Homo sapiens: one gene and its partners. The protein of the gene in region 1 purifies or fractionates together with the protein of each later gene. This does not show direct contact. Each region holds a gene or a part of one and is shown on either strand. Other genes may lie near its edges. The genes, in order: SPATS2L, SGO2 and SULF2.

The links.
Region 2: the proteins of SPATS2L (region 1) and SGO2 purify together in Homo sapiens (affinity purification with mass spectrometry; one large-scale study listed by BioGRID and IntAct). This does not show direct contact.
Region 3: the proteins of SPATS2L (region 1) and SULF2 purify together in Homo sapiens (co-immunoprecipitation; one large-scale study listed by IntAct). This does not show direct contact.

Annotation. Positions count from the first base shown.
Region 1 is NC_000002.12:200,435,559-200,439,212, forward strand, and holds part of SPATS2L (SPATS2-like protein), read left to right. Parts: intron 1-3,563; coding exon 3,564-3,654.
Region 2 is NC_000002.12:200,529,056-200,532,709, reverse strand, and holds part of SGO2 (shugoshin 2), read right to left. Parts: intron 935-3,654; exon of another isoform or gene 844-934; coding exon of another isoform or gene 809-843; intron 408-808; coding exon of another isoform or gene 355-407; intron 1-354. UniProt on the Homo sapiens protein: Cooperates with PPP2CA to protect centromeric cohesin from separase-mediated cleavage in oocytes specifically during meiosis I. Has a crucial role in protecting REC8 at centromeres from cleavage by separase.
Region 3 is NC_000020.11:47,778,829-47,782,482, forward strand, and holds part of SULF2 (extracellular sulfatase Sulf-2 isoform a precursor), read right to left. Parts: intron 827-3,654; exon of another isoform or gene 1-826. UniProt on the Homo sapiens protein: Exhibits arylsulfatase activity and highly specific endoglucosamine-6-sulfatase activity. It can remove sulfate from the C-6 position of glucosamine within specific subregions of intact heparin.

The DNA of each region.
Region 1 (3,654 bases):
ACACTGATTCATTCATTCAGTATTTATTATGTATCTACGAGATACCAAGCACATACAGTAATGATGAACAAGACATACATCACCCTGTCACCACTTTTCTCATGTAGAAATTGCAGAGGATATTTTAAGGCTTCACTAAAACAAATACCCTTTTCTAGAATATAAATTAGTAGTGATTACACACTGAAGATCAAAACTCTCACACTCCTTGTGTATCCTATTAGTGTTATCCAACAGAAATTTAACACATAGTATGTATATAATTTTATATTTTCTGGTAGCCACATTTAAAAAGTGTAAACAGGTGAATTAAATTGGGTAATATATTTTATTTAACTTAATGTATCAAAAATATCATTTCAACATGTAGTCAATCTTTTTTAAATTATTAAAGTAATATTTTAAATTTTTTATTTTGTACTAAACCTTCACATTTCAGCATATACATTACACTTATAGCACATCTCAATTTGGACAAGCCACATTTCCAGTGTTCAACAGCCACATGTGGCCAGTGGCTACCTTACTGGACACTGGAGGCTTATGTGTGAATCAGCCCCCATTGAGCTACAACCTGTTGAAGTTTACAAGTGGACTCCCGATAAATGGAGAGCTGATGGTATTTCTGGACTATAATGTTAGAGGAAAGTCACTGGATACAGTGACTTTCTGTTATAGCTCTATAACGCTCCACCAGTTTTCATCTGCAAGAGTCCCAGAGTTTTACTATATTTGAAGACAGATCTATACTAAAGTAACACTGATACATTCATTATTTATTATGTATCTGCAAGATATCAAACACATGCAGTAATGATGAACAAGACATACATGCATGTCAGACATACATGCATATATGCAAATATGTACAAGTGGTCTTGAAGATTTTAATGTTCAGTGATTTCACTAGTAATGAGACAGCTTTTGAGGACCTAAAAAAAATCTCTACTCACATTTCTCAATTGATATCTGATGGGGAATGTTGAAACGAACCAGTAGACCATATATCAGTTCTCTGATACACAAATAAAATGTTTTCAGCTCTAGGTTAATGAGCCTATGCTCATTTGCATGCTTGGCTTCCATTTAAAATTCTTTTGCATTTCATTACAATAATTTTTTCCCTCTGCTCTAAGGTCATTGTTTCCATTAAGTTATAGTATAAATCCCCTTATTTTCAAGAATATGATCTCTTTACGACACTATACACGAAGATCTGTGTTTTAAATTTGATATGGTTTGAATGTTTGTCCCCTCCAGATCTCATGTTGAAATGTGATTCCCAATGTCAAAGGTAAGGCCCAGTGGGAGGTGATTGGATCATGGGGGCAGATCCCTCATGAATGGTTTAACACCATCCCCTTGGTGATAAGCGAGTTCTTGCTCAGTTACTTCATGTGAGATCTGCTTGTTTAAAAGTATGTGGCACCTCTCCCCTCACTCTCTTGCTCCCATTCTCACCATGTGGTATGCTGGCTCCCAGTCATCTTCTGCCATGATTGTAAGCTTCCTGAGGCCCTCACCAGAAGCTGAGCAGATGTTGGCATCATGCTTCTTGTACAGCGTACAGAACCATGAACCAAATAAACTTCTTTTCTTTAAAAATTACCCAGGCTCAAGTATTCCCTTACAGCAATGCAAAAACAGCCTAACCCAGAATTCTCAATTTATAGTATCTCATCCAGACTGCCTCTCAACTGGAATTTAGAGAGGTAGTGACTTGGAACCAGTTTGGACGTGTCATTGTTTTAACACAAATGTTTATAGACTCAACATAAAATTAGTTTTTTAATCTTTTACAGTAGGGTTTCTCTGGGTGGCTGGTACCACCCATCTCCACTCCAACAGAATCACCTGGGGAGGAGAAGCCTGGGCCCACAGCTGAACTGGAATCTCTAGAAATGGTGTTCGGGAAGTTGCATGTGTAATAAGTACCAAGGGAAACTCATTTCACACTGAAGTTTGACAGCCAGTGCCTTATAGTGAAGTTCTACCTTAATATCACTAAGGATAAAATTGCATACTACCATTTGAATCTGTTTTATTACTGGAGGAAATGCTGTTTTCAGTACTTATGTACTTTGTTTACTACCTTTGCTGAACATTTTGTGTACTGTGAGTAAATTTTTAAGGGTATTCATTCAGCTCATAGAAAGTATGTTGTGCTTTCTTGATATGTAAGTTATGAATGATGGATTCAACTGAAGTCTAATTATATTGATCATGAATGGACTAATGTCTAAAATCAAATTGACTAGGACCTAGATCATATTCCTTTGTATTTTTTCAAGTGTAGTCTCTGACTGTGTCAGGTAAGATATTCATTGTTTTTTATTTTTTTCTATGAAATTGTTTCAAATGTACTTTAATTAGATCATAATTCTACAGAAAGCCATCGAGCCAGACACAAGTACTAGGGCTTCAAAACAGAATTGAACTCAGTGTTTGCCCTTGGGAAGATTGCAGCCTCTGCAAGGCAGGGGTGAGGGGCAGATATGGAAGCCTTGTGTTAAAATATAAAACCGTGGTACCATGGTTTTAAGTAAAGCAAGGTACCATGGGAGTAGAGAGAAGCAGGGCAAGGGTGACTATCTGAAAAGGCTGGGTTTTACAAAGATGACTGTGTTCTGTTTGAGTGCAAGCCAGTCAGCCAGACAAGTGAAGACATTCCCACAAGGTCACCCAGGACATAAGGAATACCAGAACTTGGTTCTCCTAGATCAAAACTGCACTCATCAAGCTTTCTACAAGAACCTGGCCTTCAAGAGCACACTGGCTTCCCTTTTCTCACACCCAAAACTTTCTCTGGTAGTAAGATGTTAAGAGTGATACATTTCCGTTTCAGGCCACTAACATGCTATTTAATTCATTCCAGCAATAACTAAATGGGAACCTACCTTTAAAAGATGCCAAAAGCAACATCCTGCTAATTGATTGCCACATCTATTAAATCTCCAGAGAGAATCTGACTCCCTAGATTTTAAATATAGTTGAGATATTATGATGATGTTTTCTGATTTAAGCCCTCCATAAATTAGATGCAATGATTATAGTATCTGTTGTCACTTCATTTTTGCTCTATCTCCAGTCACGCTTCTGCCTTCATTAATTCGGAATGAAATATCACAAGACATTAATGTAGCACTTGGAGATAGGAGGGCTACATTTTTATAGCCTCAATATGAAATTGTACTTAAAAGACTCATAAGCCTTTACTGGAATAGCAGGGGGGAAAAGGCACTGCTCATCTTCTATAAGCCTCTTAATAACCTTCCTGGATAGTTATGGATGAGGAAACTAGGGCTCAGAGATGCCCAGGGTCACTCTGCAAGTAATTACCAGAGCCAAAACATGCCCAGGTCTTTCTACTCAAAATACAAGGCTCTTCTAGTACACCCTCTAATCTTCTGGGGATTCTTTTAAAACAGTTTCTTGACTGTTTGCAATGAAAGGCATTATTGCCAATATGTAAACAAAAACAAAAATCTTGGCATCCTCCATCACTTTATCGTCAGTGTTTTTAGTTTATCACTTCACAGTCATTATTTGGTGTTTTCTTACAGAAGGCAACAGACTACTGCAACAGAAACTATCCTTAGATGGGAACCCCAAACCTATACATGGAACAACAGAGAGGTCAGATGGCCTACAGTG
Region 2 (3,654 bases), 94 kb from region 1:
TCTGCCCTCATGGAATGCATGGTACAATGCGGGTACAGACAGTGTTTTCATACAATGTAAGAAGTATAACCTTAGAGATATACACAGAGTTTAAAGGAAGTACAGAAGAGATATACCCAATCCAAGGTGGGGAAGGGGGTTGGAGAAATAGGAAATCTTAAATTTGTCTATTAGATTTATGGCCTATTATGGAAACAGGAAGATAAAGAAATCATTACATTATAGTATTACAAGAGTAATGGCTACAATACACAATGCAGAGGAGAAGCGATTAACTGTGACTGGGCAGAGGAAAAGGATCAGAAATAGCTTCACTGAGAAGCAGCAGTTGATGTTGAGCCATGTAAGACCAACCTCCCCATGCCTCCATTTCCTTCCCAAGCCTCCTTGCCTCCATCTGAAGAGATCTGAAAAAAAAAAAAAAACAAAAAAAAAAACAAAAAACTCTGTCACCTGCACCTGCCTAACCCTCAATACTCAGCCTCCCCACCACTACCTGCCTTGAGTCCACAGGACTCAGCTCACTATGTCAATCCAGGACTCAGCTCACTTTATCAATCATGGCAAGAATCCCTCAACTCCTGGGTCACGTTCATTCCCCTCACTCGAATCCCCTAAGTGCTACACATTCCTCATCTGGTCCTGTGGTAAGCTGGAAAATGGTCCCCCAAAGTTATTAGATCCCTTTAATTCTAAACCTCATGTGGAAAAAGGGCCTTTGAAGATATGAATAAATTGAGGATCTTGTAATGGGGAGATTATCCTGGATTATCCAGGCAGGACTAAATACTATCACAAGAGTCCTTACAAGAGACAGCAGAGACAGGAGTGATGCAGCCACATGCCAAGGACTGCCAGCAGCCATCAGGAATTGACAAAGCAAGGAACAGATTCTCCTGAAGAGCCTCCAGAGAGAGTGCAGCTGGGAATACACCTTGAGGTGGGAAAACCAGTGATAACTGAATTTAGACTTCTGGCCTCCAGAACTGTGGGGAAATACATTTCAGTTGTTTTAAGCACCTCATTTATGATAATTTGTTACAGCAGCCAAAGGAAATGAATACAGCCTGCCTATCTTACCCTTGCCAGACTCATGAGGTCCTCTAGAACTCACATTCCATCATCAACCAAACCTCTACAGCCTCAATCTCTTCTCTGAATGTTCCCTTCATCTTCTTGAACCACCCTCTCCCCTGAGGACACAGATTCTCCTGCAGTCCTGTCAGGCAGGTGCTGTTTTCCCTCCCACACCCCTTCTAGAGGCTACAACACATTCATGTCTGCAGACCATTCATCTTCCCTCCTCCCTAAAAATTCCCATCCTTGAATATACTGTCACTAGACTCTATTACCCCTTTCCCTTCACTGCTGTTATCAATCCCTGGGTCACTCCTCTTTATGAATTATTTCATATCCTCACTCATTGTTATTCTCTCTCAGAACACTGAAGCAACCTGTGGAGAACTTTCTCAAAACTTCCATTGCAATTACCTACATACCATACCTGTATCTGTGTATCTGTTTTCTCTCCTGTTGTTAGGGATCAACTGTGTTCCTAGATACGGATCCATGCACTGGATCCCATGCCTTCCTGCCTCCTTAAAGACATCACTCCAACAATTCTTTCCCGATATCATCAATTTTTTTCCTTTTCCACTGGACCATTCTCATCAATATACAAACACACTGCTATTTCCTCACCTTAAAGAACCCTCTTTTGTTCCCACTTCATACTCAGACTACCACTCCAATTCTCTGCAGATCTTTACAGCAAATCTCCTTGAAAACATTGTCTATACTCAGTTTCCAACTTTCTCATAAACCTACTTCAATCAGGCTTTCACTTAGACTATTCCACCAAAACTGCTTTTTTCCAAGATCTCTGATGACTTCTGTGCTGCTAAATCTAATAGTCAATTCTCAGTCTTCATCTAACTTGATCTATCAGCAGCATTTTAATGTGGTTAATTTCTCCTTCCTCAAAAATTGTATTTCCTTGGCTTCCAGAACATCAAACGCCTATGTTTTTTTCCTACCTACCTACCTACCTGTTCCTCCTCTGTCTCTTTTACAGGTTCTTCCAACCTCTAACGGGGTCTTTCCTTGAACTTCCTCTCTTTATCTACACTCCCTTCTTTGGTGATTTCATACAGTCTCATCACTTAAAATACCAGCCAGATGCCAAGAACTCCATAATTTATGTCCTCAGTTTGGATCTCTTTCCTGAACACTGGATTCATGTATCCAGCTGTCTACTCCACAATTCCACTTTAATAACTAAAGTAGATGCATCAAATTTAACTTGTCCAAACCTGCTTCACTCAGAGCATTTTCTATTTCAGTTCATGGTAATTTCATCCTTCCAGTTGCTCAGGCCAAAAATCTCTCTCATATCTCAACTTACCTTCACAATATATTTAGAATCTGACCAATTCTCAGTATGTCCATTGCTGCCAACCTAGTCAGAGGCACTACCATGTCTCACTTGAGTTTCTGCAACAGGCTTTGACTCCCTATTTCCACTGCTGCTGTCCCTACAGTGAACTAATCTATACAATCTAAAACTCTCCCATGGTTCCCACTTCTCTCCAAAGTCCTTAGTACGGTCTCTCCACTAGCTCTACACTTCTCTAATTTGAACTCCTCCTCCTCTCCCTCTATCGCATTCCCCTCAGGCCATACTGGCCACCAAAATCTAGCTGTTTGGAGCATATGCCAGGCATTCTTCAGCCTCAGGTCCTTTATACTGGTTATTCTGCATTTAGAATAAATGCTGTTTAGAAACATCTTCCTCCAGATATACAAATGGCCCATTCACTCTCCTCCATCAAGTCTCTTCAAATGTCACCCTCTCAGTGAGGTCACTTAAAACTGTAGCTCCAGGCTGGGTGCAGTGGCTCATGCCAGCAATCCCAGCACTTTGGGAGGCTGAGGTGGGTGGATCACCTGAGGTCAGGAGTTCGAGACCAGCCCAGCCAACATGGTGAAACCCGTCTCTACTAAAAATACAAAAAAATTAGTTAGGTGTGGTGGCAGGTGCCCGTAATCCCAGGTACTCAGGAGGCTGAGGCAGGAGAAATGCTTGAACCCAGGAGGTGGAGGCTGCAGTGAGCTGAGTGAGATCAAACCATGGCACTCCAGCCTGGGTGACAGAGTGAGACTCCGTCTCAAAAACAAAAAAACAAAAAACAAAACAAAACAAAACGAAACAAAACTGTAGCTCCTTCCCTCAACATCTATCACTATCTAACATACTATAGATTTATTTATTGTCTGTCTTCCCCAACTAGAATTTAAATTCTAGGAGGTCATGGATTTTTATGTTTTATTCACTGATATATTCCCCAGCGCATGGAATAGCGCCTTACAAATGATATCAACACAGTAAATATTTGTTGAATGAATAAGTAAGTCTTAGAAACTAAAAACTTGTCAGGCATCAAGATTAGGAAGGGCATTCCAGGAAGAAAGAATGGCATGTGTAAATGCATGAAAATGAAACATTTAAGAAAATACAAGTGGTCCCTTGATGCTGGAATGCTATGACCTGATTTCCCTGCTTCCCTTCACAGCAAAACTCCTTTAGAGAGTTGTCTATACTTGATGTCTCCAATTTATCTCCTCCCAGTCTCTCTTGATCCACTACAATGAAAT
Region 3 (3,654 bases), on another chromosome or scaffold:
TAGGGGGAGGCTGGGGGGAGAAAACCACACTAGAAAACAAAACACATTCTCTCTGGATAATTGTGTCCAGTCCCACAGCTTAAAATAACATCAATATGCCGATAACTCCCAAACTTAGGTTGCCAGCCCCGACCGGCTGCAGACATCCACGTTCACCACCCACTGAGCTTTCAGACATCCAGGTGGGGTTCATCTCAAACCCAACATTTCCACGTCGGAATTCCAGATCACTCCTCCTCCCCAAAACCTTCTCTCCTATCTTCCCTATTTAGCAATCACCACGCACCAGGCTGCCTAGTCACCTTTGACTCCTTGGCAGGATACATCATGAATATTTGGGCTGAATCATTTTTCACTGTGGGGTCATCCCGTACATTGCAGGTTAAGCAGCATCCCTGGCCTCTACCCTCTAGATGCCAGTAGCAACCCTTCCCCAGTTGGGACAACCTATACTGTCTCCGGATAGTGTTAAAATGTTTTCTGGGTGTCAAAATCACCCTCGGTTGAGAATCAAAGCCCTTTCCCTCACTCTGTAATCCAATCCACTAGGAAGTCCTGTGGGCCCTACCTCCAAAATACATCTCCAATCCCCATTTCACTCCATCTCCATTGATACCACCACGGTCCAAGCCACTCTCGGGCCCTCTCTGTTGCCTAACAGTCCCGGTGATACCACTTCCATCTGCACAGCACGCCTCTCACAGGAGCCAGCAGGATCTTCTTGAAACACAAATCATATCATTCTCTGACTTAAAACCCTCCAATGGTTCTCCATTTTATTTTTTAATTTATTTTTGAGATGGAGTCTTGCTCTGTCACTCAGGCTAGAGTGCAATGGCACAATCTCAGCTCACTGCAACCTCCACCTCCTGGGTTCAAACGATTCTCCTGCTGCAGCCTCCCGAGTAACTGGGATTACAGGTGTGCGCCACCGTGCCTGGCTAATTTTTGTATTTTTAGTAGAGATGGGGTTTCACCATGTTGGCCAGGCTAGTCTTGAACTCCTGACCTCAGGTGATCCACCCGCCTTGGCCTCCCAAAGTGTTGCGATTACAGGCATAAGCCACCGCGTCCAGACAGTTATCCATTTTATTTAAAATAAAGTCTAAAATTTCTTAGCATGGCCTGTATTTCTCATCTCTGACGTGCCCTCCCCCACTTACTCCTGACCCTCTACCCTAGTTGACTTTTTTTTTTTTTTTTTTTGAGACAGAGTCTGACTCTGTTGCCCAGGCTGGAATGCAGAAGTGTGATCCCGGCTCACAGCAACCCCTGCCTCCCGGGTTCAAGTGATTCTCCTGTCTCAGCCTCCCAAATAGCTGGGACTACAGGCACGTGCCACCACACCTGGCTAATGTTTGTATTTTTAGCAGAGATGAGGTTTCACCGTGTTGGTCAGGCTGGTCTTGAACTCCTGACCTCCAGTGATCTAACTGCCTCAGCCTCCCAAAGTGCTGAGATTTCAGGCGTGAGCCACCACGCCTGGCCTACCCCACTTGACTTCTATTTGTGTTTGGGGCAGGTGTCTTGGACAGGCCCCTCCCACCGCCTCTGGGCCTTTGCACTAGCTGTTCCTTCTACCTGGCATGCTCTTCCCCCAGATCTTTCCAAGGCGGACTCCTTCCTAAAATCTAGGTCACAGTTCAAAGGTCACATCCTCACAGAGGCCTCCCTGACAGCCTGCCTAAAGTTGCCTCCCACCCCATCACATCATGCAGTCATTTTTCTTTTAAATTTTTTTTTGAGACTGAGTCTCACTTTGTTGCCCAGGCTGGAGTGCAGTAGTGCGATCTCAGCTCACTGCAACCTCCGACTCCTGGGTTCAAGCGATTCTGGTGCCTCAGCCTCCTGTGTAGCTGGAATTACAGGCAAGCACCATCACACCTGGCTAATTTTTGTATTTTTAGTAGAGAGAGGGTTTTGCCATGTTGGCCAGGCTGGTCTCAAACTCCTGACCTCAAGGGATCCTCCCACCTCGGCCTCTCAAAGTGCTGGGATTATAGGCATGAGCCAGCACGCCAGGCCTAGAGCATTTTCCCCGCCTTCTGACAGCCCCTGCATTAGGCAGGAAGACAAAGAGGCCCACGCTCCAGAGCTCTCTTCGCCAAACCCTCCTGCTGATATAGAATATACACATGACATATTGGTCATGCCCCCCAGCATCCAGGACCCTCCCTAGAAGTTTGATTCAACAGGATCTGGTCTTTGCCTTTTTAAACAAATACAGCCAGATGATTCTCATGGTGGGAGGTTAGACAAACACTGCCCCTGGCCCCCCGAAAGCACAGGATCAAGGCCAGGCCCCATCCTTCAGACAGTAAGGCAGAAAAGTCAGGCCTTTGATGCCTCCTGGCCCTGGTGGAAGGGAGAGGCATTGCCCAGGCAGCGTGTTTCCCCAGTCTCCACCTTGGCCAAAATGAAGATGGGTCCATCTGGCCAGCATTGCTCACATTAGTGGCCCATCATCGCAGGCACTGGCCATCTGCCTCTCCAGCAACCGGGCTTCCCTTTCACTGGGGACTCCCCGTGCTGTTTTATTCCAGGCTTTGGGGTCTCAGCAGTCAGCCTCCATCCAGCTCCAGGGAGAGGCCTGTGAGCCTGGCTTAAGCCAATTGTTGGCAACTCATTTCCTTAGCCAGTGACTGGTTTGGACAAAAAACAGTCCAATCAGAGGGAACCATGGGGCTCAGGTGTGCATTGCCAGATCAGAGGCTTGTTCTTTCCTTTTGGGCTTAAACCAGAGGGGATGAGACCCCTCTGCTCCATGACATCTGTCCTGACACCTAAGTTATGGTAACAGTCAATGCCTACTGAAGGCTCACCTGGGTCAGACGCCCTGCTAAGCACTTGACATTGATCATCTCATTTCATGCTTACCACAAGCAGGAGACAGGTGCTATGATCATCATCATTTGTTGGATGTGAACATCAAGGCACAGAAAGGTTAAGTAGCATGCCCCAGATCCCACTGCTGGGCAGGGAGCCAGGCAGTCTGGCTCTCCTAGCCACGGTGCCCACAGCTGCCAGGGACTGCCCGCCCCAGAGCTGGAGAGACATCAGCCTCATGGAAGGCAGAGGAGCGGTGGATAGGAATGGATTCTCATTACAAAATCTGAGCTGTGGGTCCAGCTGTGTCTGAAGCTAGAGTTAGTCACCTTAAGACTTTTGGTTATGAAAACCAGTAAGTCCACTTCTTTTCTCCTTAAGCTGGCTTGAGTTTTTTTCTTCTCTTTTTCCGTTGCTTGCAAGAGAAAGGAACCTGATTACTTTACAGTTCTTCTAGGCAAGTACCCCTAACTGATACTCCATTTGCAACTTGCACACAGCAGCTGCTCAGTAAACACCAGCAGATACGGATGGACTGCTCTCCCTTCCGGTCCATTCACTGCTGGATCTGTACCCTGACACCCAACTGTGGCCAGCCCAGCGCTTCTTCCCCTTTAGGCTCCAAGTGAGGCCTCGTTCCCTAGCAACCACCCCAATTAGGCAACCATGCCATTTATCGGGATGCCAATTAATTATAACGATCTTAATGCCCTCCCAATTAGACAGTGCCTTCAATCCGGCTGGGCCAGGGCTGTCTGTAGATCTCCACCAAGGCCCATTCCAAGGAGGCCCAGAGAAAGCAGGTTTCAGGGAGGGCCCCCTCACCTG